Linked DNA regions of Homo sapiens: region 1 is linked to region 2. A link means that fine-mapping ties the variant in region 2 to the expression of a gene that starts in the linked region. Tissue or cell type: whole blood. Region 2 holds a variant in brackets; the other region holds the start of a gene. All regions are shown on one strand. Distances are between the middles of the regions.

The links.
Region 1: it holds the start of NCAPG2, and the variant in region 2 is fine-mapped to the expression of NCAPG2 in whole blood (TOPMed, PIP above 0.99).

The regions. Positions count from the first base shown.
Region 1 is chr7:158,703,694-158,706,598 of GRCh38, reverse strand. It overlaps NCAPG2 (non-SMC condensin II complex subunit G2), which reads left to right and starts at 1,795. Exons shown (of 28, transcript NM_017760.7): 1 at 1,795-1,875. RefSeq lists silencers at 1,139-1,418, 1,539-1,628, 1,779-1,878 and an enhancer at 2,456-2,905.
Region 2 is chr7:158,625,162-158,628,066 of GRCh38, reverse strand. No RefSeq gene overlaps it. Among named protein-coding and RNA genes, the nearest start is that of MIR5707, 35 kb to the right of the region's middle. The variant C/T (reference allele first, on the strand shown) is at 1,442.

The DNA.
Region 1 (2,905 bases), 79 kb before region 2:
GGAAACTGAGGCTCAGTCGTCCATGGCTTGTCAAAGGTCACCAGCTAGTGAGCACAGAACCAGGTTAGCCCAGGTGGTACAGCTTCAGAGCTCACATGCGTAACTTGTTACATTATTCCTACTCAGGAAGTGGAAACCCCAGGAACAGATGGCTGATTGGAGGAGGGACCAGCATAAGGAAAGGGGCAGGATTCAGGGGTGGGAGGGGAAGTCGATATCTGTTTTGGATGCATGTCAGCACCAGCGTGGGAGTAGGCAGTGAGCTGTTGAAAATTCTGGAGTTCAGAAATAACCGTGTCTTGCAAATCCAGATGCAGAGGTCACTGCTTGAAGGTGGCAGTTTGCACCTTGGATATGAAGGAAATTGCTAAGAAGAAAGCAGTGAGAAGATGAGGGCACCAAAATTCAAGAAATGGCAGGGAAGGATCTGTGTATGGAGGGAGGAGGAGGTCAGAGGTGGCTGGAGCCCCAGGATGAAATAGGCAATGTTAGATATCGGCCACCTGTTGACAAGGGTCCCAGACTCAGCATCCTCTGAGTGGGTCTTCTCCCTCCCCTCTGCAGCCTGCCTTGCTTCACTGTTGCAAGCTTCCTAGTAAACCAGTCTTCTCCCTGCTATAATTTTATATTGCTTGTTGAAACGATATTCCAACAAGTAACATAAATATTTTTGATATACTAGGCTAAATAAAACATATTTAAAAATTAATGTCACCTATTTATCTTCATTTTTCTAATGTGGTCACTAGAAATTTACAAGTGCACTTGTGGCTCCCATGATGTTCCTATTGGTTGGTGCTGTGCTCCCACAGTGCAACGACTTCAATCTCGCCAAGACCTCTGGCTTGAGTTAAGCCAGGAAAACAGATACCACTCTAGACATCTCAAGCATGAAAGAATATAGCTCCAGGGAAGGCCAAGTCCTCACGAAGGGATGCAGAGCTCGGTGGTAAAGAGCACCGTTTTCTAAGAATTTGCTTTCAACAAAAATTGGGAACGCCCAATCAAGTTATTCGCTGACACAAATTAAAAGAGATTGATACATCAGTATGTGATTTTGGCATTTAAGTCCAAAGAATTGAATGACATTGCTACTCCTCCTTCACACGGGTGCCTCCGAGGGTCCCCGCTAAGGCCTCTCCCTCTCCACCCTATGGGCAGCTGACCTGCCGGGGGCCTCACCTGCTGGAGGAGCAACTGCAGGAGAAGCACCTGTTAGGGGCCGCACCTGGCCGGAGGGGCTCCTGCGGGGGAAGCACCTGCCCAGGGTGCACCTACCGTGTGCAGGCTGCGGACCACCCGGACAGGTGCCCCCTCGGCAGGGAGGGCGGTCACGGGGGCCGGCCAGGTCGGGGTGGGGTCCTCCCGGGGATCCAGACACGGCCCTGTGGCCTCTCCCCGCCCCAAGCCTTTCCTTTCTCTCCCCCTCTCTCTCTTCCTCTCCTTCCTCCTTCCCACAACACCGCCCGCTCGCAGCGCCCCGCCCTCTCCTGGACCGCGCACTCCCTCCGCGGAGGCCCCAGGACGCGCACGAGCGCGCAGTGGACGTCGGCGCGCGGACCGGGCATGGGTTCCCCAGCTGTGGCGCCCCGCGTGCGCGTTCCGTAGTGCCCGGTAGGGCACTGGGCTTAGCTGCTCGAGGCCGCGCCCTAAGAGGCGGGGCATAGACAGGAAGAAGACTGGCGGGCATGTGGGCGGGGCATGATCTGGAGGCGGGGCGGGCCGGGCGTGTGGGCGAGGCCCGAGGCTCGCGGCGCCCCAGCTCTCGCGAGAGCGGCGCCTGATGACGACCGGGAGGGCGGGGCCCGTCTGGGGCGCCGGCGGGTGCGTTTGAATCTGGTCCGAGCGCGGGAAACGGCGGGTCCCCGAGCCCAGGTAAGAGCTGCGGTGCCGAGCCGGGATTGGGTTCAGAGCAGGGGCTGGGAAGTAGCAGGGATCGGGCGGGAAGCCCCTCCTCGGCTGGTCGGGGTCCCAGCCTCCCCTCCCCTAAGGAGGCGGCCGACCTGCGTGCGGGCAGTGCTGCCTCTGACGGAACTGGACGGAACTGGCGACCCCGGGCCATCCCCCCTACCCAGCTCAGCGACGCCCGTCCTTCTTGTCCGTGTCGGAGGAAAATCCCAGCCCCGGGCGCGGGCACTGCCCTCAGAGAGCGACCCCCCAGCCCTGAGCATGGGCACCGTCCTCAGAGAGTGTCCCCTCAGTCCTGGGCATGGGCACTGCCCTCAGAGAGCGACCTCCTCTGTCCTGGGCATGGGAACTGCCCTCAGAGAGTGTCCCCTCAGTCCTGGGCATGGGCACTACCCTCAGAGAGCGACCCCCTCAGTCCTGAGCATGGGCACTGCCCTCAGAGAGCGTCCCCTCAGTCCTGGGCATGGGCACTACCCTCAGAGAGCGACCCCCTCAGTCCTGAGCATGGGCACTGCCCTCAGAGAGCGACCCCCTCAGTCCTGGGCATGGGCACTGCCCTCAGAGAGCGTCCCCTCAGTCCTGGGCATGGGCACTACCCTCAGAGAGCGACCCCCTCAGTCCTGAGCATGGGCACTGCCCTCAGAGAGCGTCCCCTCAGTCCTGGGCATGGGCACTGCCCTCAGAGAGCGACCCCCTCTGTCCTGGGCATGGGAACTGCCCTCAGAGAGAGTCCCCTCAGTCCTGGGTGTCGGTACTGCCCTTAGAGAGAGTCCCCCTGAGCCCTGGGTGTAGGCACTGCCCTCAGAGAGTATCTCCCCAGCTGTGGACGTGGGCATTGTCCTCAGAGACATCAGTCTCCTGAACTCTTGTTGCTGGTTTGGTGCCTCTTGTTGTGTCCATGAGGAAGGAGTTTGGGGACGGAGTGGGAAGTCACAGGTGGTGAGAAGGTAACAGGGATTTCTTCTTTTTAATGCTCATCTTGATTTAGTACCAGACC
Region 2 (2,905 bases):
GCCTCCCGGGTTCACGCCATTCTCCTGCCTCAGCCTCCCGTGTAGCTGGGACTACAGGCGCGCGCCACCATGCCTGGCTAATTTTTGTATTTTTAGTAGAGACGGGGTTTCACCGTGTTAGCCAGGATGGTCTCGATCTCCTGACCTCGTGATCCGCCCGTCTCGGCCTCCCAAAGTGCTGGGATTACAGGCGTGAGCCACTGCGCCCGGCCGAGAATCTTGCTGTTATTTCTACATTGGTGTCTGTGGCTGCTTTTATTATCTCCTTATCGAAACCTAAAAGCTCTGCTCTTGTGTTTAGGTCTGTGATCCATTTTGAATTAATGTTTATGTATGGTATGAGGTAAGGATTTATTTATTTCTTTATGCCATATGGATATCTAGTAGTCCCTGCACCATTAGAAGGTAATATTTTTATCAAGGAACTCCATGACACATCTCTGGACCTGCCCTTCATCTAGACCAGCAGGGCTCAGCTGGGCATGAGTTTGCCCCTCTTTCCGTCAGTGGCACAGGTGTCTTGGTGGGCTGGGTTGCCACAAAATGCCTCAGGTAGGAGGCACGGGACAGCCCTTGCAACAAAGAGTCATTCCAGCCCAGTGGTCAATGGTGTGATGTTGAGAAGCTCTGCTGTGTAAGTGTATGTTTGAGCTGTTATGATTAGGTGTGTAATCCATTTTAAGTTAATCTTGGATGTGGAGTCCAAGTTCAGTTTGTTGTTTTTGGTTTTTCCCCATATGATTATCCCGTTGTTCCTGCACCCTTTCCTCCTCCATGAAATCACCTTGCATCTTCGTCAAGATGCAGTTGGCTATACCTGTGTGGGCTCTTTCTGGAGTCTTTTCTGTGCACTGAGCTATGGCCATCCTTACGCCAATTCCCAGGGTCCTTTTTATTTGAGCCGTACCTGTGTCTTAAAATTGTGAATTGCAAGTCCCCAATTGGCTTTCTGTTTTTTGATGTGGTTTTGGCTTTTCTAGCTCCTTTGCCTTTTCATATACATTGTAGAATCAATTTGTCAATTTCTACAGACGAAAACATGCAGTACAATTCTGATTGTGATTACACTAAATTTACAGATCAAGCTGGGGATTAACTCGCAAAAAGAGTCCGGCCACTTATGGAAAGAAGGCAAAATAATAAGTTATGATGAGAAAGAGTGATATTCCTTTATTATTTGTGCAGGCAAGGGGAAGAGCAGTTCCACTCTTCAGTTTGTGGAGGGAACGCAGGGTTTTACAGAAAGGGTTTGGAATGCGGAAGAGGCAAGGGGGACTAAGAGGTGCCAGGTGGCGTGACTTGCTTCAGTGGCCCTTCTTGAATTATTGTCCCATTTGGTGAAGGGGCCGGCACCATTGTGCATCCTACCAGGTTATAAATTAATCACAGTCAATCTTGTAGTCACTCTTCAGCCAGGAGAGGGTTCTGGCCTTGAAATAAT[C/T]TTTTGTTGGAAAGAGAATTCCGGAGTTGCCTAGTCCCTTTTAGGACCCGACCCCTGAAGCTTCTAAGCAAATAAATGGCCAGATAAGAGAGCATGGTGTGTGCTTAACTAGTATCTGGGTAAATACATGTGCATAAAGCATGGGAGCATACAGTGGGAAAAGAAAGAAGAGTGGAGGGCCCGGGTTCGGTGGCTCACGACTGTAATCCCAGCACTTCGGGAGGCTGAGGTGGGTGGATTGCCTGAGGTCAGGAGTTCCAGACCAGCCTGGCCAACATGGTGAAACCCCATCTCTACTAAAAATACAAAAAATTAGCCAGGCGTGGTGGCACACGCCTGTAATCCCAGCTACTTGGGAGTCTGAGGCAGGAGAATCACTGGAACCCAGGGGGTGGTGGTTGCAGTGAGCGGAGATTGCACCACTGTACTCCAGCCTGGGCGACAGAGCGAGACTGTTTCCAAAAATAAAAATGAAAGGGAGTGGAGGTTCGCAGCACATTCCAAGGCTGTATTTCGAGATGAAAGGTAACACATATGCAGTTTGTCTCAAAGTTTTATCTTGAGACTGGGAAGGGGAAGAGGAAAAGGAAAAGAAAAAACAGTTTGAAACACAGTTTGAGGCTAGGCTGCTAGGCTGCTAAGCTCTTCGGGCAGAGGGAGAATTGACACTCAACAGTGTTGAGTCGTCTGATCCATGACCATTGTCTAGTTTTTCAGACATTTAATTTCTCCCAATATTTTGTCATTTTCATGATATAGGTCTTCCATATGTTTTATTAAATTTATCCCTACGTATTTTGTGTTTTATAGAGCTGTTGTAAATGGTAGTATTTTTAAATTTTCAACTTCTAATTGTTTATACTGGAATAGAGGAAGGCAGTTTCTTTTTGTATGTTGACTTTGTATTCTACTTTTCTAAGCTCATTGATGACTTGTGGTAGTTTATTTATAGGCTCTGTCATATTTTCTACTCAGACGATCAGGTTATCTAAAAATAAATGCCATTTACATCTTCCTTTCCAGTCTGGATGCTTTTATTGCTTTTCCTTTTTGTGCCGGTGAGAACCTCCAGTAAAATGTAGCCTGGAAGTGGTGTGAGCAGGCACTCTCGCCTTGTTCTGGTCTCCACAGCACAGCATTCAGTCTTCCACAGCTCAATAAACTGTAGGTTGTTTATAGATGCATTTTATCAGGATGAGGAAGTGCCTTTCTATTCCTAGTTTTCTGAGAATTTTTTTCCGTGAGTAGGTGTTAAAATTTTGTCAAATCCTTTTTATGCATTTTTTTTTTTTTTTGAGATGGAGTCTCACACTGTCGTCTGGGCTGGATTGCAGTGGGTGATCTTGGCTCACTGCAACCTCCGCCTTCTGGGTTCAAGCGATTCTCTTGCCTCAACCTCTCGAGTAGCTGGGATTACAGCTGCCTGCCACCATGCCTGGCTAATTTTTTTGTATTTTTAGTAGA